Linked DNA regions of Homo sapiens. The protein of the gene in region 7 purifies or fractionates together with the protein of the main gene of each other region. This does not show direct contact. Each region holds a gene or a part of one and is shown on either strand. Other genes may lie near its edges.

What was found.
Region 1: the proteins of LRRC61 (region 7) and SIK2 purify together in Homo sapiens (affinity purification with mass spectrometry; one large-scale study listed by BioGRID and IntAct). This does not show direct contact.
Region 2: the proteins of LRRC61 (region 7) and FAM184A purify together in Homo sapiens (affinity purification with mass spectrometry; one large-scale study listed by BioGRID and IntAct). This does not show direct contact.
Region 3: the proteins of LRRC61 (region 7) and PI4K2B purify together in Homo sapiens (affinity purification with mass spectrometry; one large-scale study listed by BioGRID and IntAct). This does not show direct contact.
Region 4: the proteins of LRRC61 (region 7) and PLEKHA1 purify together in Homo sapiens (affinity purification with mass spectrometry; one large-scale study listed by BioGRID and IntAct). This does not show direct contact.
Region 5: the proteins of LRRC61 (region 7) and TGFBRAP1 purify together in Homo sapiens (affinity purification with mass spectrometry; one large-scale study listed by BioGRID and IntAct). This does not show direct contact.
Region 6: the proteins of LRRC61 (region 7) and YME1L1 purify together in Homo sapiens (affinity purification with mass spectrometry, with the first as the bait; one large-scale study listed by BioGRID). This does not show direct contact.

What each region holds. Positions count from the first base shown.
Region 1 is NC_000011.10:111,699,949-111,703,448, forward strand, and holds part of SIK2 (serine/threonine-protein kinase SIK2), read left to right. Parts: intron 1-937; coding exon 938-1,062; intron 1,063-1,503; coding exon 1,504-1,627; intron 1,628-3,254; coding exon 3,255-3,475; intron 3,476-3,500. UniProt on the Homo sapiens protein: Serine/threonine-protein kinase that plays a role in many biological processes such as fatty acid oxidation, autophagy, immune response or glucose metabolism.
Region 2 is NC_000006.12:119,068,665-119,072,164, reverse strand, and holds part of FAM184A (protein FAM184A), read left to right. Parts: intron 1-3,021; exon of another isoform or gene 3,022-3,118; intron 3,119-3,500.
Region 3 is NC_000004.12:25,275,533-25,279,032, forward strand, and holds part of PI4K2B (phosphatidylinositol 4-kinase type 2-beta), read left to right. Parts: intron 1-1,481; coding exon 1,482-1,655; 3' UTR 1,656-3,500. UniProt on the Homo sapiens protein: Together with PI4K2A and the type III PI4Ks (PIK4CA and PIK4CB) it contributes to the overall PI4-kinase activity of the cell. This contribution may be especially significant in plasma membrane, endosomal and Golgi compartments.
Region 4 is NC_000010.11:122,391,708-122,395,207, forward strand, and holds part of PLEKHA1 (pleckstrin homology domain-containing family A member 1), read left to right. Parts: intron 1-595; exon of another isoform or gene 596-665; intron 666-1,473; 5' UTR 1,474-1,493; coding exon 1,494-1,634; intron 1,635-3,500. UniProt on the Homo sapiens protein: Binds specifically to phosphatidylinositol 3,4-diphosphate (PtdIns3,4P2), but not to other phosphoinositides. May recruit other proteins to the plasma membrane.
Region 5 is NC_000002.12:105,274,236-105,277,735, reverse strand, and holds part of TGFBRAP1 (transforming growth factor-beta receptor-associated protein 1), read left to right. Parts: intron 1-64; coding exon 65-122; intron 123-2,032; coding exon 2,033-2,176; intron 2,177-3,500. UniProt on the Homo sapiens protein: Plays a role in the TGF-beta/activin signaling pathway. It associates with inactive heteromeric TGF-beta and activin receptor complexes, mainly through the type II receptor, and is released upon activation of signaling.
Region 6 is NC_000010.11:27,144,385-27,147,884, reverse strand, and holds part of YME1L1 (ATP-dependent zinc metalloprotease YME1L1), read left to right. Parts: intron 1-216; coding exon of another isoform or gene 217-387; intron 388-2,294; coding exon 2,295-2,457; intron 2,458-3,500. UniProt on the Homo sapiens protein: ATP-dependent metalloprotease that catalyzes the degradation of folded and unfolded proteins with a suitable degron sequence in the mitochondrial intermembrane region.
Region 7 is NC_000007.14:150,336,006-150,338,656, forward strand, and holds the end of LRRC61 (leucine-rich repeat-containing protein 61), read left to right. Parts: intron 1-712; 5' UTR 713-856; coding exon 857-1,636; 3' UTR 1,637-2,151; downstream 2,152-2,651. Other genes in the region: RARRES2 (retinoic acid receptor responder protein 2 precursor), read right to left, coding at 2,620-2,651.

The DNA.
Region 1 (3,500 bases), on a different chromosome or scaffold from region 7:
GGAGAGCCAGTTCCTGTCACTGAGACAGGCTCTTCAGTCAGGAGTATGTAGCAACATAAGACAGCATGAGTATAACTTAACAAGATAATAGGTATTTGTTTCTTCGGTAAGAATATGAGACTATAAAGGCTTAGCAAAAGGGTATGAACTTGCATTTGTAACAATACTTACTAAATTTTTTAATGCATGTTGAAGGCATCTAAGTAGTGTTTCCAGAGTGCATTCTCTGTATCAAAACTGTAGAGTCAGTATGGCTAAGATCATAAGGAGAAGGCCATTAACTGTTTTGAACTATAATGCCACTGCGATCCATAAATTAGTAAATAAGTGATGGTGATAGGTGGCTTGTGGCTGGGCTATGTGGCCATCATATGTTAATGAGCTATTCAGATGGTTATCTGCCTAAAACAGGATATGTGGACCAACACTTAGAGGGTTGTTACTTAGGAAACACTGCACTCAGTTGCCTTCAAGGGTTATATATCTGGGGTAATGGCAGCCAGTCACTCAGTTGTGTTTAGGTGAATGTCTTAGAGCTTTACTCATTTGTTTCTTTCCTTATAGACCATTTAAGATAAAGAGCTCTTTAGCAGTCATCAGGTAATTGAAATTCTAAGATTATCAAATACTAGTTGGGTTGTCCACTTTAAGGCTGATTTTCTTTCACATGATATAAAGTATTTTTCCAGTCTCTCACTTACTCGCTTTGGGAAGAAAACTTGATTCATTTACACATTCATTCAGCAACATTCCTTGAGTACTATTTGCTAGTCATTGTGCTAATGCCAGGGAAACATCACAAGATAAGATGCCATCCCAGTCCTCACAGTAAATAGTAGTGATATTGTTAATATAGCATATTAGAAAATTTATTACAGAGAAATGCAGTATAGTTTGAGAGCATAGATGAAAATAACATTTATTTCCATCCTAATAGATTTCGGTTTTGGAAATTTCTTTAAAAGTGGTGAACTGCTGGCAACATGGTGTGGCAGCCCCCCTTATGCAGCCCCAGAAGTCTTTGAAGGGCAGCAGTATGAAGGACCACAGCTGGACATCTGGGTACTGCTTTGCTTTGCTGTGTTGTTAAATGCATCTATACTGATAATACTTGGTGTTCTGGCCCATCTTAGAAGCTCCTGGTACTTAACACATAAGCAGTATTTCATATTTTCCCCATCCACTGGACTATAATTACTCAGAGCATCTTGAAATGGATCCCTAGGAAAGAATTTCTAAGGATAGGTGTTGTCATCCTAATATCAGCAGTAATTTAAAGTTAAGTAGTAATCAAAATTATCAGATTCAAATTCTTTGGTATTTATTATAAGATACTTATTGTAGTAGTCAGGGTTTTGGATTTTTTTCAAATTCTGAGAAAATAATAAATCCAGACAGGAATTTTTCAGTCCATATGATTTCAAGAGCCCTGGGGATGTTCAGGAAAACAAAGAGTGTTTGACGTTCTTGGTAGAAAAGTCTCTGCATTGTTTTCTTCCCTAGAGTATGGGAGTTGTTCTTTATGTCCTTGTCTGTGGAGCTCTGCCCTTTGATGGACCGACTCTTCCAATTTTGAGGCAGAGGGTTCTGGAAGGAAGATTCCGGATTCCGTATTTCATGTCAGAAGGTAATCAACTTTTCATCTTATTAATGGTGTTTTACAGTGTTAGTGCTCCAAGTGAAATGCCTAGGTAAAAGCTTCTTTTTTTCTAAGAGTTTGGGTGCCAAATAAAGTGACTGAGCTGTAGGTTAAAAGCTATAGAAAGAAGCAACCTCCTTTATGTAGGCGAGACAGGTTCCAGCCTTCTACTTGTAACTAAACACACAGCATTTCCCAGATTAAGAGCAGCATGTCTTCTCATTCATTCTGGGTCTATAAATGTCCCAGGTTTATTTTAGATTTAACGAAGCCCTTTGTAGATACAGATTCACAACCATTTTACTCCAATATGAAATGAACTTTATAAAATTAAAATTTTTTTAATTAAATAAAAAGCCAAACTGGCAAAACTCTGCTAAATTCAGATGATATGCCATAATCCCTGCCTGTCGTGTATTGAGCTGTTACCTAGATAGCAGTTAAGTTTACCCCTTAGTTTCATTTTGGTTATCATTCTTAACTCTGTTCTTTCTACTAAGAGTAGAAATAATAACTCTTCATAGTTAAGAGCATGGACTGTGAAGGCAGACTACCAGACTGCCTGGTTTTAATCCTGAGTCCACTGGTTACTGGCCATATGACTTTCACAAGTTTTGTCTCCTCTCTATCTGCTTCAATTTCCCCATCTATAAAATGGAAATAACAATAGCACCTACCGCACGGGTGTTGTAAGGTTTAATTAAATTAATCTGTCAGTCAGGTGCAGTGGTTTATACCTGTAAGTCCAGTGGTCTGGGAGGCTGAGGCGGGAGGATCTCTTAAGGCCAGGAGTTGGAGACCAGCCTGCACAATATTGCAAGACCCTGTCTCTACAAAAAAGTTTTTTTTCAATTAGCCGGGTGTGGTGGCATGCACCTGTAGTCCTAGCTACTCAGGAAGCTGAGGCAGAAGGATTGCTTACAGTGAGCTGTGATTGCATTACTGCACTCCATCCTGGGCAAGAGACTGAGACCCTGTCTCCAATAATAATATAATAAATAGGCATAATCTGTGTAAAGCACTTAGCACAGCGCCTGCCATATAGTGACAGGAGGTTACCTTATGTGTGAGTGAAGAGCATCATGTCAGCTCAGAGAATATGCTAGTGCTCAAAGTTGCAGCAGTGCGGTTTTCTTGGTGTAGTCAGAAGTAAGTAATATTTTATGTACACTTTTCTCAGCTACAGTGATGTGGAGGAGAGCAGCAGCCCGTTGGAGAGCTCTTTGCCTCGCTTACGTAGCCTTAGTATATCAGCATTAGATATGACTGAGGATCGATTTATTATTTGCTTGTTCTAGGAATGAGGCTTATTTCTTTCCTTTAGTGGAAACCAAAGTCTGTTTCTAGATATTTTCAGTTGTGAAATTCAGTAGAAAGTTTCCTTTAGCCCAGAATCTGATAGACCTACACCCTCCTGTTTTTCTTAGGTATTTGTTCACCATGTGAACTTGAGAAATATAAGTAGCCTGCATGTGTTCATTTATTCATTTGACCTTCTGCTTTCCAGTAGAGGATACAAAGATTAACACCCTTGTACAAAGTCACATGAGTCAAGCAAATAACCCTGAAGTGCAAGGTGATTCTTGTGACTTTTGTAACATTGTGTTTTCTATAGATTGCGAGCACCTTATCCGAAGGATGTTGGTCCTAGACCCATCCAAACGGCTAACCATAGCCCAAATCAAGGAGCATAAATGGATGCTCATAGAAGTTCCTGTCCAGAGACCTGTTCTCTATCCACAAGAGCAAGAAAATGAGCCATCCATCGGGGAGTTTAATGAGCAGGTTCTGCGACTGATGCACAGCCTTGGAATAGATCAGCAGAAAACCATTGAGGTAAAGTGATCAGAGATTTCGGGGT
Region 2 (3,500 bases), on a different chromosome or scaffold from region 7:
TTAGGTTGGGTGCCCTGGCTCATGCCTACAGTCCCAGCACTTTGGGAGGCCAAGGCAGGCAGATCACTTGAGGCCATGAGTTCGAGACCAGCCTGGCCAACATGGTGAAATCCCGTCTTTACAAAAAATACAAAAAATTAGCTGGTGTGGTGGTGGGTGCTTGTAATCCCAGCTACTTGGGAGGCTGAGGCACAAGAATTGCTTGAACCCAGGAGGCGGAGGTTGCAGTTGAGATCATGCCACTGCACTCCAGCCTGAGTGACAGAGCAAGACTCTATCTCAAAAAAAAAAAAAAAAAAAAAAAGATTAAAGGTTTAGACTTTAGACTGTGACCAGGCTGACCCTCTCATTTTATAAGTATAGAAGGTGTGAGGGCTCGGTGCCATTTGAAGATTACTCAACCTGGACTCACATTCAGCTCTCTAGATTGGTCTAGGTGGGGGTGGCCACACTAACAGGCCTCTTTTCCCTGTGTCTACCTTCTTTCTAATATTACTTATTCAATAAGAGACCACAGAGTTATTGTTTTTCCATGTTGGAACCATGTTTTACTTACCATCTGAATCAAATTTTTGATAAGGGTGAAACCAACCTGTGTCTCCTCTGTATACTTACTGTGGAACTTTCTGGGTTTATAGGTTGTATATTTTGTATACTATGACTTGGTCACTTTGTAACAGAGGTTTATTGTGTGTGCTGTCAGCTAAATGTCATAATATTTTCATGTTTTTATTAACAGGTTTAGTCATTCCAAACTGAAACGTATTTAAAATAACATTAACTTAGAGACTGCCATACTTGGTGTGAAAATTACTACTGTGGTTATTTTAAATGTCTTTCTTTTGACTGCTTTCATTCTTGATTAGATTGTTGCTTAGACCCCATTCCTAAACACAGTAAATTGCAAGTTTTCCAGTTTTTATTGATTCACTATCTGTTTAGTTTATGAAAATCCTTTGCTAGCCTCTAATCACCAGTCTTAAAAAGTGTTATGAAAGATAAAGATTCAGCAGGAATATGTGACTGGAGTAATTTCTTCATTTTAATTAATAAGTTCCCTATACTTTAACTTTTAAAATTGTGATATTTTTGAAAATTTTGTATCTCTTAAATGTGAGATGGGAATGAAGAATAACCTGGGTCTATAAAGCTAATTAGTTTGTGGAAGAAAATAGGAGGTAATGGGGGCCAGGGGAGTATTGATAAAATACTGTTATTTTGCCCTTTCAATTGATCTTGTGAGTTTTTTTTTTTAAAGAAAATCTTCATAAGCATTCAAATAAATTTGAATATTATGCCATGAAATGGAAAGGATGTGAATGACGGGAGTTCGTAACGCCATTCTTTTTATTCACCACAGGAAGTTTCTATCCTGCAGCCCACTTCAGAATGTAAAGGACATTAAGTAAATGTCAGAATTGGTGCCCCATGTCCCTTTTTTGGAGATAGACACCTATGGGAGACAATCACTAACTGATTTCAGGATTAGATAAATAGATAAATAAAAACAGCAACATTGAGATCCCATCTCTACTTTTTAAAAAATAAAAATAAAGAAAAACAATGTTATAAATGGTAGTTTGATATGGGGGAATCATATCAAACTATTAGGTTTATATTTTATATGTCAAGTGTGGTCTAAACCATAGGGGGCTTTTTAGATTGACCTAGAGAGTTAATGGTCCTTCAAAATATTGGAAAATATTCTTTGGCTGCCAATCAATTAATATATAAAAATGAATTTTTGAAACAATGATATTTGCAAGTTGGAGATTGCCAGTTGTATTTTGGTATGCTTAACCTTTAAGACCAAGCAAAAATTTTAGAAAATCTCTGATTCTTAACTTTTAACTAAATTACATCAGTGAACAACTGTCATTTGTAACCTTATTTCACCAAGGATTACATCTTTCTTTTCTACCAAAACTTCAACGAGAATGTATAAAAAGTAGTGAAGTTGAATATATGAATTTTTTATCCTGTATCTTACACTATTATCTTGAGATGCAAATGGAAGCTGAAACTATCAAAGGATCTATAGTACATGGAAAAACAAGACTTAGTGATTAACAATCATATGTGGGATTTGGATATTTTAGACTTGGCTACCATGTGCTACCTCATTTAATTGTAAAGGAGATAGTACTTTGATTTTTTTAATTGCTAATTCTGTATTTCCTTATTTACATGTACCATCTCTATACCAAAGTTTGAGGAAGTTGGAAAGTAAAACATTTCATCTATAAAGTGCATTACTAATATTTAAATTATCAATAAAATTGATAATTTTAGTAAAATAACAGGGTAAATTCCTATTTATGCGAAATTATTAGAGAATGAATTATTTTAGTTAACTAGAAGTTTCCATAGGGGTTAATAAGTTTTCACTTTCTCATATAGTATACTTACATTTACATCATACCATTCATATATCACACTGGAGTTCTTCATCAACTCCAGATCATTGTTAGGATCATCAGTGCATATATAGGAAATTGGACCAAACTTATGCTAGTCCTATTAGGCCAAATCCATGAATGCTGATATTTAATTTCTGAATAAATTGTTACTTGCCCTTTTACTTGTCATGTCTTTTTTACTTATAAAATGAAGTGTCGCATTTGGATATTTACAAATTCTAGACATTGGCCTTGGTGGTTGAGCAGATTTTGTTTATTCTGGCGAATGTGTGTCTATGTGTTCACAGGTATTTGCATTTTTCATCCTGTAGCTCCTTAAGCACAGTTTTAAAGATTCTCATTTCTTTCAGAAAACATTTTATGACCAAAATACTAAATAGTATTCTTTGCCTACCTTTAGATGTTTCGCCTAGTGAATTTTGGGAGGAAGGTGTGTGTGTGTGTGTGTTTAATGGTCTACTCAGAGTAATAAAATATACTTAGATATGACCGAAGTAGAATATATAGGTCTATGTGTTTGGTAAACTTGTCGAATGCCTACTTTATGAAAGACATTGTGCTTGGTACTATTAATTATTTAATACTATTTATTATTCCATTTCAGACTATATATTTAGGTTGGCGCAAAAGTAATTGTGGTTTTGGCCTTTATTTTCAATGGCAAGAACCTCAGTTGCTTTTGTGCCAACCTAATACTTCACATATATTTTCCAACAGACTTGAGAAAATGTAACTGGAATATATTAATCATATATTTTAATTACAACATATTTATCAGTACATTAATTCTGACAAATTTTAGATGTGTAATCATGGGCAAATTTTTCTATTTGGTTTCGTTCTTTTTGGGTAGAACTTATGTACGTGCTTTTCTTGGATAAAGAAACTATACTGATACCTTCTAAATTCTCTAATAAGGTTTTGATGACTCAGTTGACATATTCTGGTTACAAATCTCTAATATATTTGGCTGGGGGGTAGAGCGGGTAAAAGGAAATTTCAGTCTTGGAAACCCCGGAGTTAATGTGTTTGTGTTAGGTTTAGGTTTCTCATGGGCAGCCGGAGAGCCACATTGTTCCC
Region 3 (3,500 bases), on a different chromosome or scaffold from region 7:
GCCTCTAGGCCCAGCTACTCTGGAGTCTGGGGTGGGAGGATCGCTTGAGCCCAGGAGGCAGAGGCTGCAGTGCACTGTGATTGCACTCTGCACTCCAGCCTGGGTGACAGAGCAAGACCCTGTCTCAAAAACAAAACAAAACAAAACAAAAAAAAAGAAAATGTTAAGGGAAGAACTTAAAAGTGATCCTAAAACATAAACATAACCTATAACACTGTTACTAGTAAAGATCTATTTTCCTGATGTGTTAAATGCTCCAAATATTCTACAAACTAAAATCATCTAGTTTGGCCAGCTGTGGTGGCTCACACCTGTAATCTCAGCACTTTAAGAGGCCAAGGCAGGAGGATTGCATGAGCCAGGAGTTCAAGATCAGCCCTGGCAACATAGCAAGACCCCATCTCTACAATCAATCAGTCAATCAATCAATCAATCAACCAACCATCTAGTTTATACTATTTAAAGTATTATGAAGTTTATTTATTAGTATGGCTTTATGTGGAAACATTTATGCTTATCACTATTGACTAGTCTTTACAAGAACCAGTGAAATGCATAGGATGTATATATTAGATATTTTCAAATACCTGAAGGAGAAATCTGTATTTCTAAAATATACAAGAAAGGACATTTTTCCTAATATGCAGGGAAAAAAGAAGATGAACTGCTATAATTTTATTTGACCTGAACAGAGACCAGAATAATCTATGTATTGTGTTTCATAACCTTATTTGCATGCCCAAGTAGAAATTCCCAGAGTATCTTTGAACATGATATGTAATATATTTTACTTTCCCTAATTTTATTTTTCTTAAGAGTAAACTCTTAAATGTACCTTTATTTGAAATGACTGCCTTCCCAAATTCTCTAACCTATTTGCCCTGCTTCATGCTTTCCCATAGCAATTTCACCTTCTAATACATGGCATAATTTACATATTCATGTTTATTGACTCTTCTCCCTGCTAAAGTGTAAGCTCTACGAAGGCAGCAAGTTTGCTTGTTTTTTTAACTATTGTATCCCTAGCACTTACAGCAGAACCTCGCACATAGTAGGCATACAATAAATTTGTTGAATGAATGGATAAGGCAAGTATTTAGTTAAAACCAGACTGTTTAAACCAGTATTTGTTGAGTTTTTATGTTAAATTGAATATGTATGTAGACCTCTTCACTTACCGTTCTTTGATTCCATTGCTCCTGGACATAGGCAGGATATTCTAGAATATTTTAAACTTACCATCTGGCAAAAGTTATTTAATGCTAATTGTGTGTGTGTGTGTGTGCGCGTGTGTGTGTGCGCGTGTGTGTGTAAACATACATTCATATAATACATATTTATAACAGGTACTTATCTTCACAGTCTCTGTTGCTCATAAATGGATGAAATAAAAATTATAATGAATAAATGGTTTAAAAAATGTCAGTGAAGTGAAGCTTTTTATCTTTTTAAATTGGTAAAAATCTCTCTTCTTCCCACAGATCTTAAACCTTACTCAGGCATTGAGAGACGGGAAGAGTCCTTTCCAGCTAGTACAGATACCTTGTGTGATTGTGGAACGCAGTCAAGGTGGAAGTCAGGGTCGGATTGTCCACCTGAGCAATTCCTTTACCCAGACTGTCAATTGCAGGAAGCCATTTTTTTCCTCCTGGTAGTAAATGTCAGAGTAAGAGAAACAAACTGTTTAGAATTATCATGTTTTTAAAACATCATAGTAATATAAATCTGCTGTTAGGAGCTCCAGTTGCTAAAACCTCAATTTAAGTCTTTAAAAGGTTGTATTTTGAATGTAACCAAAAGTTTACAGTTTTTTGTCCAAATATTAAATTTCTATTTCAGGGAAGAAGTGCTATATCTCCTATATTGTATTTTTGTAGAAAATTTGTATTTTATGTTGTTGTTAGTTTAAAAGGTAATTTTACACATGCTGGAATGACTGTAATTACTCTAGAATTCCAAGTAGAATACAATAACTTTTAATATTGAGAAGAATGTTCATGCTAATTCTTCTTACATTACAAAAGGCCTTTGAGGATGCCTACGTCTGAAATTGCTCTTACGAACTTTAATAAAATAGTTAGCTAATAGAAAAACAGGTAAGAATAAAGCAATGTTGCCTTAATTTCAAAAGCTGCTATTTTAGAATTTGAATAAGTACTCCTAAAGTGACCATTATTAGGGACCAGAAAATTATATCTTGGCTAAGTAATAGAGGACCATTTTGGTTTTTGTACTTGAGAATATTTTTGGTGAATTACTTTGTTGTAGTGAGGAAAAAACCTAAGAAATTTCCCCTTTTTTTAAAAAATGGAAATATTCAATTGAGACTTGAGGGGAATAATAGAAAATTAAGGTAGATCCCCAATATTTTGGAATACCAAAATTGCCTTAAAAATTCCCTTCTGTTTCTTACATGGGATCAAATACTTGAGATTAGTACTTCAGAGTACTGGCCTTGTTCAATTTAGTACTTCAATTAGTATTAAACTTCACTAAAAAGTAAACCATACTCCAAATTGTATATTGGATTGCATTTTGGGGTCCTAGGTCATACGTTCTTCAAAATTATTATGATTGTACTATTGTACTTGAAATTACAGATGTTATTATAATTACAGTCAAATGTAGACTATCAGGCCAAATTAAAGGGGAGCATGGCAGATAACCATAAAGTCATTTATATTTGATTTTGAAATGTATTTTTGTACTTTATTTTGAATATCATCCATATGTCTGACATTATTGGAATTTGTAACATTGTTAATGCACTAAGTGATTTAAATTCAATTGATGAAGATGTGATTTTACAGAAGCAGAAGTTTCATTTTCTTGAGGCTTAAAACCAATGTCACCACTTGGGCTTAACTGGGTAATTTGTGGTCTAGGCCTTTTGTTTTCTAAGCTTACTATCTTGTGTTTGTTTATTTGCTTTTAATGAAGTATTTTGTGTAGAAGGTTAAATTAGGATGCAAAACAGATCTGCCATTCCTTTTTCCCTTATATCTTCCTTTTGGTCTTCATGGACGAGATGAATGAGGATTCTGCTGCCCTGAGGGAGTTCATTGGAAACCTGCGTTCTCCTACCTCTTCCAACCCTCCATTAGCTCAATTTTGAGATAATGGAAAATTGACTGGAAATTCAAAACTCAAACTACTATCTTTAGATATAAACACTAGTAATTAAAATGTGCCTTTTGAAGATGTTTTCTAAGAGAAAGGAAATACGTTGCAGTGATGTGGGTACTGCTTTCATAAAACAGTTTTTTCAGTATTTTGAGAATTGCCATATTAATTTTTATAATGGAAAACTTAATAAATTGCTACTGTTTTATATCATAAAATTAAAATACCATGGTAATATTTGCAAAAGGTCTGGCCATACCAGAAAAGTACAGTTGAGATAGTTAAGATATAACCACAAGTCAGAGTACATTGGTTGTATTTTGTAAACTTTCATGAACTGAATTCTTATTTAAATAGTATGGTTTTTTTTCAATAAG
Region 4 (3,500 bases), on a different chromosome or scaffold from region 7:
TGATTTTTCAAGCTTTGATTACATTGTAAACTTTTTTTTTTTTACAAACATGGTAAATTTATTAAAGAAATTATTTCCTTTAAAGTATCAGATTTATAAGAACAATAACAGCAACAACACACAAACTTATTGGATGGTTTTATTTAAAACTTTTTGGTGTATTTTATCATTTCTCTGACTGCATATGGAATAGTGATGCAGATACATAGTATATCAGTGTGCATTGTAATTGAATTTTCACTGTAAGTTAAATTTACCTTGAGCCTCTAAATAAATAGTTATGTAAATTCATCCTGCCAAAAGATGTGATGGTGCCAGCTATAGAAGTACCAGAATAGTAACAGCTGTCTGGTGCAGATTTGGGCTAAGCATCACATCAAGAAGGAATCACATGTCTGTAGTCTCTAGAGAAACAGTTCTTGGCACCTAATGGTTTTTTAACTTTAATCAGTACAATAAAAGTTGCAGTACTTTAGGACCAGAATATGATACACCTTTTAAGTCTATTTTAATCTATAATGTCTCTCTTTTTCTTTTTTTTCTTGTAATAATTTACTTGCTAAAGAAACTTTTTTTTTTCCTTTGTTTCTTATAGTCTGGCTCTTGCTGATTGAATTCCTTTGGTGCAGTTTAGCATGTTCCTCTGTGTTCTGCATCTCCTGTAGGTTGGTATTTGGATATAGAGGGGATCTAAAAAACATTTTTTCTTGTTGCTTTATGTTCACATGATAGGTGATGTTTGTGTCTTCCATCAGGAGGCACATCATACCTGCTTATCTCTCTTTCCAGTACATTAACTAGTTTATTTTGATTCACTTTAGTTTTAACAATTCAAGGGTTTTTTAGAGAGGATGGTGTAGAGCATAAGATAGGAGATCTAGAGTGCGGTAATCTGGATTCAGGCTTTGACTCTTGGCCTACTAGTTTTGGAATTTTGGAAAATCACTTCCCCTGTGTATTAAGTTCCTTATCTGCTGGGGATGATTATGCCTACTCCTAGGATTGTTTAGAAGATTAAAAGAGTTAACATATGGAAAAGAACCTTGTACAGAGCCTAGCATGTAGCAAGTGGTCACTAAATTTTAACTTTTGTTGTTTTGTGAATTTAAAAATATTCTAAAATAATCTAAAGGATAGATTATCTTGATTTGTGAGGAAATTAAAATTTGGATAACTATTTTTTTTGGCTCACCTGGGGTTTTTTTAGGGAAAAAGTAAGTAAATTATTCAGCTGAGGTGAGTAGCTCTCTGTTGTCCCCATCACAGTGAATAAATAGTTACATTTAGTAACCACTCTTCACAAACTGAATTTCAAAAGTGATTTTTGTCAATGCCTCAGATGTTGGTGTGTGTTCATTTTAATTGACCTTACCTAATGTTGGCAAGTTGCCCCCTCATTGAACAGATTTGCAGTCCATGAGAAATACTTTCCTGTTTCATAGGGAGCTTACTGTTAATATTTTTATTTTACAGTGTAATGTTCAAGCTCAGAAATGCCTTATGTGGATCGTCAGAATCGCATTTGTGGTTTTCTAGACATTGAAGAAAATGAAAACAGTGGGAAATTTCTTCGAAGGTACTTCATACTGGATACCAGAGAAGATAGTTTCGTGTGGTACATGGATAATCCACAGGTTTGTAAAATCCCAAGGATTATCTTTTAAAAGCACAGAAAGTTGTATTTAAGTATTTAACATACTATACAGGCTTTAGATTTGTCTTCTTAAGCAGTATATTTTTAGATTTATTTCTACTGGCTGTCCTCTCTGCCCTGCACCCCTGACCTCTACTGTTTTGTTTGAATTTCAGAAGGTGAAACTAAGTTTATTTGATAAAAATTAATGCTTCTGTATATATTTTTCCCTCGAGAGAGAAATACTCTCTCTGGTGGCAAATTAGGTTTTAGAAAATTAGAACTTGAGTCACAGAAAAAAATAACAATTGAAGCTGTCCCAAAAATAAGAAATACTTTTTTTGTAACATGTATTTCAAACAACAGCTAAAATAAAGACCAGGGATAGATGATTTTCTTGCATTAAGGAGGCTTAATACCAGGGTCCCTTTAGTGAGATTAAATTTAGGTTTAAGATGCTGCATCTAGGATAGAGACTATTATTTTTAAATAAATAAATGACTTAACCACATGATACTCTTGCACATATGTAGTCCTTTTATTTTGTAGTGTCAGATTTGAGTCAGTCATTGTAATGCCATCCATGAACTGAAATGCAGTTTGATTTTATTGTTGCCTTGCAAAACACAGGGGTAAATGCTACAATTTAAAAAATTGGAATCCCAGCCTTAAGAGGCCTGAGATTAGATATCATCTGTGAAGTAGTTTTAAACTTTCAACTTTCTCTACTTTTTTTTTTTTTTTTTTTTTTTTTTGAGATGGAGTCTCTTATCACCCAGGCTGGAATGCAGCGGTATGATTTTGACTCACTGCAGCCTCTGCCTCCTGGGTTCAAGTGATTCTCATGCCTCAGCCTCCCGAGTAGCTGGGACTACAGGGGTGTGCCACCACACCTGGCTAATTTTTTGTATTTTTAGTAGAGACAGGGTTTTTCCGTCTTGGCCAGGCTGGTGTTGAACTCCTGATGTCAGGTGATCCTCCAGCCTCAGCCTCCCAAAGTGCTGAGATTACAGGCATGAGCCACCGCGCCCGGCCTTTTGGAACTTTTTATCTTCAAATAAAAATTGGTGTAGAAGTTAAAAATGGGGTTGTATGTTGCAAGGAAGTATGTGCAAAGCAAGGGATGAATCTCTAGCAGACTTCTAAGCTGATTTTTGTCCAGTAGGCTTCTCGTGTGGGTGAGGAATGGAAGGTCTAGGGAAGAGCAGAGACTTATACAAGGTTCTGTTCTGTTTCACAGAGCAGGAACTAGGTCTGCTGATAAGTAGTCTAGTATTCTTCACTATATACTGATTTTAGATTAGACAAGATATATATGTGTCTATAGTAGATACTAATGTGTGTATGTTTATTTATGTAGAATTTGAGTTGTAAGGGACCTCTCCTCACCCATATGAGCCATTGCACAGTTCTGCCTATTTTCTCTCCCTGATTTTTCTCTCTCTTCACAAGGTCTGGTTGACATATGTATGGTTTCTCCTGAATTTTACTTGAAGCTCCTTGATTATTTTTCTGTGTTCCTACATAATAGATTCTTCTTGTCATTCTTCCTTTATCAGTACTACCCATTTAGCAGAGCTAAAAGGAGTTAAGTACAAAATAGAATATATTTATTACCCTGAATAAAACTTGAACTTGGAATTCAGAGGAAAGTTACACAGCTAGTAGAAGGAGTTGAAGTCTTCATGGAAGTGGTAACATTTGAAATTGACTTAGAAGTTTGGATATAATATTGGCTAAGAGATGGAAAAGTTGAGTATTCCAGTGCTCAAAGAACAGTGTGGGCAGAGATCAAAGCAAGAGAGCCTATGGCGTGTTTGGAGACTAGATCACTTTGGCTATAGCACTCAGCTAGGTCTTGTCCACA
Region 5 (3,500 bases), on a different chromosome or scaffold from region 7:
GTGTGAAGGTCGCCTCCAGGAGCTGATGGGGAGAGGTTGTACTTACCGTGTTGTTCTGTTTCAGGTATTTTGCACTTGGACTGCTCTATCATTATAATAACCAAGATGCTGCTGCAGTTCAGGTGAGTCTAGAAGGGTTTCCACATGATTTAAAAATCAGCACCATGTAAGTAATACTTAGTGTTACTTAAAAAAAATTCACAAGTTGATAGAGACCACTTTTGCCTGATCTACACCCTTTTATACAGAATAAAAATGATTCTGTTTTAGAAAGTGAATTCCTGGAGAAATGTTGGCCAAGAGTTTTCTTCTCATTGTCTTTCCATCTCCTTAAAGAACATTATCAAGACTGAGTTTTTGAAAACTTAAGAAATGAAAATATGATCTCACAGAGTTCCAAGTCATAATATATCACTACCCTTATCAGAAAATTTAGGCAGTGAATGATAGTCGGATTTACCATTTCCACTGTTAGTGATGATCACTGTTGCCAATGAGCTGGGTACATTATTATCCTTGTGTCACCTGTGACAAAACCAAAGCTGATGCATGCCAGTTGCTTGCCCGAGGCCATGTGTCCGTGGTAGATCTGGGATCTGAACCGCGCTCCATTGGCCTGGCAGGGGTCCTGCACCCTAATCAAAATGGCATCGATTTATTAGCATTGTCACATTTTGTATCTTACATCTTGCTACTGATCTTGAGAAAAGCCTCATCTCACACTCTCAGGGGGAGACTTTCTCCCCTTCGTTATTAGTTATGCATTTGTACTGCACCGTGTTGTTTCCTGATGTGCCTTTTTGCTTTATTTTGTGAGGGGCCAAGAGCATCAGCCATGTTCCCCAAGCTAAAGTTAACCTCATGACTCTGGCAAGGCTGAACATGTATTTAGTGTTTGATTGCTTTGTGAGACTATTGTGGTAACCTGATTGCAGAGCAGAACAACAACAACAACAAAAAATGGAGTTGGGTGAATTAACACGTACCCAATGGCCAAGAGTAGATTTGGGTGTCAGTGATAAAATTTTCATTTTCAAAAACCTGGTGTTCTCAGTTACAGCTTTATATAAGTATAGTAATAACTTTAGCAGAGCTGTAGAGAGATAGATTTGCAAACTTGAAGTGATATGGGATAAATCTCCATACGTGGTAGAATTTTATATAAAATGGCATATTTCAAGGTATGTGTGATTATTTGGTTTCAGCAATTCTGTGTTGAAGAAACTAGTATCATAAAAAATGTTCGTATGCTGACATCAGAATTCCAGAATTCATATGCCACCCCTGTTTCTGGGCTCCTTCCTGGTGCTGTGGCTTGGAGGGGTGGTGCTGTGTATGGGTGGGTGAGGCACGCCATGCAGGTATTGCAGAAGGAACCCACGCAACCGTCATCCTTTCTACCCCCAAGTGATGCTGCCTCATTCTGGGGTCCTGAAAGTAGGCTTCACTTAACATGGTAGGGAAGTTTCTGGCTGAAAAAGCAAAAGGCTTTTATCACTGGAGTCTATCCTGAGCCCCCTGTGCAAAAGGCAGTGTGAACTCAGGGGACAGAATCACTGAAGCTTTTGTAAAAGCACAACATCTGCCTATCACAGTCCAAAGGGGACTTCAAAATCAAGAATGTCTGTGACGGAGAAGATGGAAACAGAGCCTGGCTGATGGTTGTAGGTGAATCTTCTCTGTGTCGAGATGTTATCAGTGACCGTTTTCTTTATTTCATGAAGAAACATTTTTAATATATTCACCTCCCTGCATATATTCTGTTTACTGTGTTATTGTTAAAAAAAGAAAGAAAGATAAAAGAACCTAGAGCTTAATTTTTTTTTTTATTTCTTGGACTATGTCTTTTTACATTTCTTTATTTCTCCAAAAAAACTAAAATTTAAGCATTTACAGTTTTTCCAACTACTTTAAAAGGTATTAAAAAGCCAAATAAGTAAACATATGCCATTTCTCAACTAATTCTGAGATATGTGCCTTTATGATTGTTTTTTCTTTTCTTTTTCTTTTTTTCTTTTTGATTCCTTTCCAGTTGTGGGTGAACATTGTGAATGGCGATGTCCAGGACTCCACACGCTCAGACCTGTATGAATACATCGTGGATTTTCTTACCTACTGCTTAGACGAGGAACTAGTGTGGGCCTATGCTGATTGGGTCCTGCAGAAAAGTGAAGAGGTTTGTGCTTCGTAAAAATGCATTCTCTTTGGTTGGGGGAGGTGGTAAAAACAGACCCCAAAAGCTTTGCTTTTAGGAGGGGAAAAGAAAGCTACATTTCAACCTCCTCCTCTGTTTTTTGTTGTTGTTATTATTCCCCTTTTAATACCTTCCCTTGAGCTCTCTGGATTCTAGCTCTAGGGCAGTTCTGCATCTTGCTGCTGAGACATTCCATTGAGAATCCCCTTGCTGGGGCAAGTCACTTGTATAGAAAAGCAAGACATAGCCAGCTTGCATTTTTAGCATCTTCTTAAGAACTTGTGTCTGTGAACCCCGCTCCTCGACCCCTCAGAAGTCTGACACTGCTGTTTTCTGGAGCAGGATTAGGTGGTTGCCCTGAAGGACTTGATCTTTGGGAGGAGGAAGCACCCAGACCTGGGCCACACTGGGCCCTCATCCCTGCTCCCACCACTGCCAACATGGAGCTTGTGGGCCTGGAGGAGGGAGGGGAGCCATGAGCAAGACTCGGCCTGTCCTGGAGGCTGAGAAATGCTGGCAGTGAAAAAGCACCTGTTGGCTAGAGGGAAGGTAGCAGGCTCAGGACAGTATCCTTAGTAAAGCCCCACAGGTGACCACAGGTGACTGGGAAGAAGACAGCAAGCATTTCAGTTCTCATCGTGAAAAACGTATACGCTTCCATGGCTCCCCTTGGAGAGACAAAATGAGCTTTCTGATGCAGGACGTTGGTCCTGAATGGAGAGTTTCTGAGTGCTGCATCTGCCTTTCTAAGACCTGAGTTGGAATATATTCTCATATCCTCCGTGGTGCTGGCTTCCCTGGAAAATCAGAGCCAGGCACTTGCACTTTGCATACTTGTTTCTCCATCTTTACTTTGCCTCTGTGCACACGCCTGCAGAGCACATCCTGACCTGCTCACACACACCTACAACATGGATCTCAGTGCCGTTGCAAGGTTTAGGCTTCTCCCAATGCTTATGGATGATAACAGCAGATACTGCACGGTGGACAATCCCCTGACAAAGGTCATCGCTTAAACATCATAGCAGCCCCTCAGTGGGCATTAGCTACAGATGAGGAAACTGAGGCTATAGTTGGTAGAGCTGGGACACAAATCCAGGCTTATAGAATCCAAAATTCATACCATAATACATGATACGTGAATGTATTGGCCTTGGAGGGGGGAGGTGCGTGTGTGCGTGCACATGATAGAACCTCCCACATGTAAGTGCTCAGGGGAGGTGCAGTGGAGAGCTGCTTTCCTGCCTGCCTCACTGTCCTTTCCTTGAACCAGAGGATTGGACCAGTGCCTCCACTTGATGGACAC
Region 6 (3,500 bases), on a different chromosome or scaffold from region 7:
TGTTCCTGGGGATGTGTCCTACTAGAGAAGCTGTTACACGAGTGGTGCCAGGGGAAGCTGCTAGGTCCTGCTGGCCATTGTGCACGCCAGGAGCCAGGGTTTGGTGAAACTGCACAATTGACAGGAGCCAGATGCTATAGAAACCACGGGTGTTACAGACAGGAACTTGCTAAATGAGCATACCACAACCAGGAATCAAAACCTCTCTTCCTACAGTGTATGTTCAGTGACTTCCTGACGAAGCTTAACATTGTTTCAATTGGCAAAGGAAAAATATTCGAAGGGTACAGATCCATGTTCATGGAGCCAGCAAAAAGGATGAAGAAGAGCTTGGACACAACCGATAACTGGCACATCCGTCCAGAACCCTTCTCCCTCTCAATCCCTGTACACTGCGGGTTTCTCCAAATGCCTATTGTCTATGATTTGTTTTGTCCATCGTTCTTAGTCACGGCTTAGTTCAGGTTCTTGCCATCTTTCACTTGTTCCATCAGCCTTCTCTCTCATCCAGTCTAGTTTCTTTGTTTGTTTGTTTTATCATTTTTAAATTTTTTGTAAAGACAGGGTCTTGCTTTCTTCACCAGGCTGATCTCGAACTCCTGGCCTGAAGCAGTCCTCCCACCTCAGCCTCTCAAAAGTGTTGGGATTACAGGCTCGAGCCACCATGCTAGGCCAGTCTATCTTCCTTAGTTCTCCATTTTCTTCTATAAGACAGAACTAATCATGTTACTTAGAGAATTAAATTCAAACATGGCTCTTCACAGTTTGGCCATAACCTATCTCTTTAATTTTTTCTTTCCTTGAATTTTTTGAGATATTCCAGACCCTTGGATGGCTTTTTGTTTGCCCCCGTCCCTAAGCCGCCTTGATCATTTTTAATAGCTTAAAAAGTACTTTTAAGTATTTTATTTCATCATGCCTTTAACTGTCTTTTACTATGTGCTGTCATGTTGTATGCTAGGATACGTAGATGAGTAAGGCATGATCTCTGCCTTTGATCCTTACTATTAGGAAATAAGGTGTATTTTATAGTTATGTTAGTATTGAGAAAATGAATTCTAAGAATATGAGTTATAGCTAATTTAAAAAGTACCGTATTCCCAGACATCAGTCCAGAGCTATATAATCCGTGTCCATGCCTCTTTTAAAAAAAACTTTATTTTTAGAGACAGGGTCTCCCCTTTGTAGCCCAGGCTGAAGTGCAGTGATGCTGTCATAGCTCACTGCAACCTCCAGCTCCTGGGCTCAAACATTTCTCCTGAGTAGCTGGTGCTGCGGGTGCATACCACCATGCCCAGCTAATTTTTAAATTTTTCATCAAGATGATGTCTTACCATGTTGCTCAGGCTGGTCTCAAACTCCTGGCCTCAAACGATCTTCCCACCTTAGCTGTTTTGGGTTTGAGTAACATGTAATTGTTACTTGCCTTTAAGTGCCTCTCTTTCAGCTCATGTGGACAAGAAAATAATCCCTATCCTGTTGTTTAAAAGTGGGTATACACACATTTTTGTGATTTTTAGACTTTTTTGCCTGATTTTCACACAGTTTTGACTTTAATTTTCTTCTTTATTAGAAGATATGGGTAACTTTAGAACCTCTGAGTTCAAGGAAGGATCTAAGCAATGAGGCCAGAGGAGTGAGATGTCCTATGGTAACCAAGCATACCATTTCTTTGTCAAGTGGGCTTTTGTTTATGGCTGCTTAGGGGCTTAAAAGCTCCATGGACTGGTGAGGATTATCATTTGAATGGAATTTCCCCAATTCAAGAACCTTACTATTATCCTCCAATCAGTTCTACACTGTTGGGGAAAATCCCCTGGACCTTATATAACATACTTTGTAACCCTGCAGTTAGTTACTCTTACACTCTTGTCATTATAAATGCTTGATCAATAGTTGATAGACTAGCTCTTGATCAGAGTACCCTTGTATGGAGAGAAGGAAAAAATGCCATACATTTCACTTGATTCTGTGAACCATAATGCTTAGGACAGTAGTGGTTTGGGTTTGATTTAAAAAAAAAAAAAGTTTTTCTCATTCATGCTGAAATGTCATCTCTTTATTTAAGGATACCATTAGGAATATAATTTTTTAACCTATGTCAAACCTCATATGACTGATCTCAGTAAAACGAACTGTGAAAATATTTGCATCAATTTATTTTTAAATATTAAAAAAAGGAAATATATTTGTTAGACTTTTAAAATCTGATTGTTTTAACTGATAATATGTACTCCTTAGGTTAAATATCTTGATAATATTAATGCATACCTGGTTGACCCAATCTTTTACAGCCTTCACTTAACTTAAGGGACCTTGGATTATCTGAACTAAAAATTGGACAGATTGATCAGCTGGTAGAAAATCTACTTCCTGGATTTTGTAAAGGCAAAAACATTTCTTCCCATTGGCATACATCCCATGTCTCTGCACAATCCTTCTTTGAAAATAAATATGGTATGTTAATGTGTTTTTTGTTCCAATTAAATATTTTAGCACTATTAATAATTATAGATACCATTTCTTAGCTTTCACAGTAGCGTTTATTGTGGGCTGGGTTCTTTCCTGAAGTGTTTTTTTTTTGTTTTTTTTTTTGCAATTTTTCATATTGAAATAGTACCAGATTTACAGGAAAGTTGCAAAGATAGTACAGAATTTTGCTTCCACTAATTTTGGCATCTTACATAATCATGTTACATTTGTTAAAACTAGGAAATTAACATTGGTACAATAATTTTTTTTTTGAGACGGAGTCTCCTTCTGTCAGCCAGGCTGGAGTGCAGTGGCACAATCTCCGCTCACTGCAAGCTCCGCCTCCCGGGTTCACACCATTCTCTTGCCTCGGCCTCCCAAGTAGCTGGGACTACAGGCGCCCGCCACCACGCCCGGCTAATTTTTTGTATTTTTAGTAGAGATGGGGTTTCACCGTGTTAGCCAGGATGATCTTGATCTCCTGACCTCGTGATCCACCCTCCTCAGCCTCCCAAAGTGCTGGGATTATAGGCGTGAGCCACCGTGCAGGCCTAACATTGGTACCTTATTTTTAACTAAACTACAGACTATTTGAATTTCAACAAAATTTGTTTTCACCAAATCACTAGTTCTCTGCAAGTGTCCTTTTTCTTTTCCAGGATCTGATCCAGCATACCACATTGCATTTAGCAGAATGGGGGGGCGTTGTTTGTTTTAATTTTAGGTGACACACATTTAATTCCAGGAAACATACTTAATCTTTGAGAATACATTGATTAAAAAAACAGTTGTTATCCCTTTTGTGGAATGTCTACATTTTTTTTTACTTGAATCTCATAACAGTATGGTAGTATAATAAGTGGGTTCATACTAGTCTGAAAAGGGATGTCAACTTTATGAGTTTTTCTTTGGATGGCACTTAAACAGGCCATAAAAATCCAGGAACAAAATAGCAGGTTTGACTAGTTTATAATGAAGGTTTGATTTGAAGCTGTCCTTTGCATAAACTTAATTCATTAATTCTTGAC
Region 7 (2,651 bases):
AGTCCAGAGCAAAAGAGCTAGCTTTGGCGGGCAGTGAAGTGAGAGCAAGGGTGTGCGACCTAGCCAGGCCACTTACCCCAGCCTTCCCTGTCCCTTCACTACCTTGACCTCAGTTTTCTCCTTCAGGACTAAAGGCCAACTTCTTATGCTCTACAGCTCCAACCAGAGGTACCAGCTGACCCATATAATCTGGAAACAAGTTTGAATTCATTGCTGTTAGAAAGAATTGCAGTAATACTGAGTGAATCAAACAAGGCACATGTGCTCTCGTTTGCATTGCATATACATTGATTATCCCAGAAAGAAAACAAAAGAAACTGGTGATGGTGGTTACCTATTGCCTATTCAAAAATAACGGTTTAAAAAACACCCCAAAACTAATAGGGATGGATCGTGAGTGGTTACGGAAAAAGTAAAATAATGTTTTGCCCCTAGTTTGGATTTGACAGGAAGAACTGGTAATATTGGGCCTGAATCCATCCAGCATGGCCCTAACCAGCCAGGGCCAGTCTGGGCTGCTCCCCTTGGGTTGGGCCTGCACCCCATCCCTGTCACTCAGATGGCTTTTGTGGCCTGTGTCCCAGCTTGGTCTTCAGGTCTTGCCTGGCTGAGATTGTTGGTTTTCATGGTAAAAGCAGGGTCAGACTCCCTGCCGTCACCTGCTGCGTAAGACACAGAAAGTGCTGCCTGCTGACTGACTGTCTCTCCTCAGGGACTGGCTGGCTTCGAGCAGGGCATCGGAACCAGGCCTCCTGGCACTGGCCTGGGTAGAGCCAGGGCGAGCACCAGCTGACCCCCAGTGGAACCCTGTGACAGTCCTGCCAGGGCCCAGGCCATCCCAACCGACTTCCATCTCATGGACCCTCCAGCGGAGAAGCCGGGAGAGGCTGGCGGACTGCAGATCACACCCCAGCTGCTGAAGTCACGCACAGGCGAGTTCTCCCTGGAGTCCATCCTGCTACTGAAGCTGCGTGGCTTGGGACTGGCTGACCTGGGCTGCCTGGGAGAGTGCCTGGGCCTGGAGTGGCTGGACCTATCAGGCAACGCGCTCACCCACCTGGGCCCGCTGGCCTCCTTGCGCCAGCTAGCTGTGCTCAATGTCTCCAACAATCGGCTGACGGGCCTGGAGCCACTGGCCACCTGTGAGAACTTGCAGAGTCTCAATGCCGCAGGCAACCTACTGGCCACCCCGGGCCAGCTGCAGTGTCTGGCTGGGCTACCGTGCCTGGAGTACCTGCGGCTCCGAGACCCTTTGGCCCGGCTCAGCAACCCGCTCTGTGCCAACCCCTCCTACTGGGCTGCAGTCCGGGAGCTGCTGCCTGGCCTGAAAGTCATCGACGGTGAGCGTGTGATTGGGCGTGGTAGTGAGTTCTACCAGCTGTGCCGAGACCTGGACAGCTCCTTGCGTCCCAGCTCCAGTCCAGGCCCCAGAGCCACCGAGGCCCAGCCCTGGGTGGAGCCAGGCTACTGGGAGTCCTGGCCCAGCCGGAGCAGCTCCATCCTGGAGGAGGCCTGCCGGCAGTTCCAGGACACACTGCAGGAGTGCTGGGACCTGGACCGCCAGGCCAGCGACAGCCTGGCCCAGGCGGAGCAGGTACTCAGCTCTGCGGGCCCCACCTCTTCCTTCGTCTTCTGAACGTGGCCTATGGCCCAGGACAGCCTGGCAGGTGGCCTCGCTGCCCCCAGTTCCCCTCTCTGCCCCCACACTCGTCTTAGTTGCTTCACACTGGTCACTGGCCCTGCACACTGGGCTATTGCTTTATCCCTATCCTGAGAGCAGCCCCTCCCCACCATCCCTCCACATGCTGCAAGGACAGACTGAAGGGCTGTGAGCAGGTGTAAGGGCTCCCACATCCGTGAGCCTGTGTCCGCAGCTGCTGCCACTCTGGGCTGCTCCAGCCTGCAACTTAGTGGAAGGAATTACTTCCTCCTGAGGCTACAGGCGAGAAAGGTAGGGATGGGCCAGCCTCCCGTCTCAGCTGTTGGGAGACAGTAGGCAGGCTGAGTGGCCCAGAGCACTCCTGGAAGTGGGACTCCCCTGCCTTGCAAATGTGCCTCTCCAGACTGCTCCTGCACTTACCCCCTCCCCGCAGCACCTTCTCTGCCCGTTCTTGTCCACACATCTATTAAATGCTTCTGTTTTCATTTGCATCCCTGCCTGGCATTTCATGGGGGCACCTCTGGCTCTGGAGCACAGGAGGCTCTGCTCACCCTGCCCACAGGAAGGGGTCCCAGAGGAAGGGTCCTGTCCCCCTGCCCTCTCTGGCCGCCTCTGAGCTACGCTAAGGAGGAAGTCGTGCAACACAAGGAGCTGAGAGGCAGCTGGGAGAGCAGCTTTATTATCATGGCTGGGGATAGAACGGGTTCCTCTCCCTGGGGGCTGGGGTCTTCCACTGGTTACCACCCGCAGCGGTCCTGGAGGCACCACGCATCTCTAGACAAAAGGGGAAACAGGTTTGGGGGTGAGGGAGGTTGCTTCAGCCCCAGTCCCAGCTTTCCTCCCAGGCTTCTGACCTGTCCCCTCCCAGGCTCCCAAAGCCCAGCCCAGCCCCTCAGCATTCCCAGGGCTGGCCTCATCCAGACGGTGCTCTCAGCCCCCTGGTGCCTACCAGTGCTGGCTTAGCTGCGGGGCAGGGCCTTGGAGAAGGCGA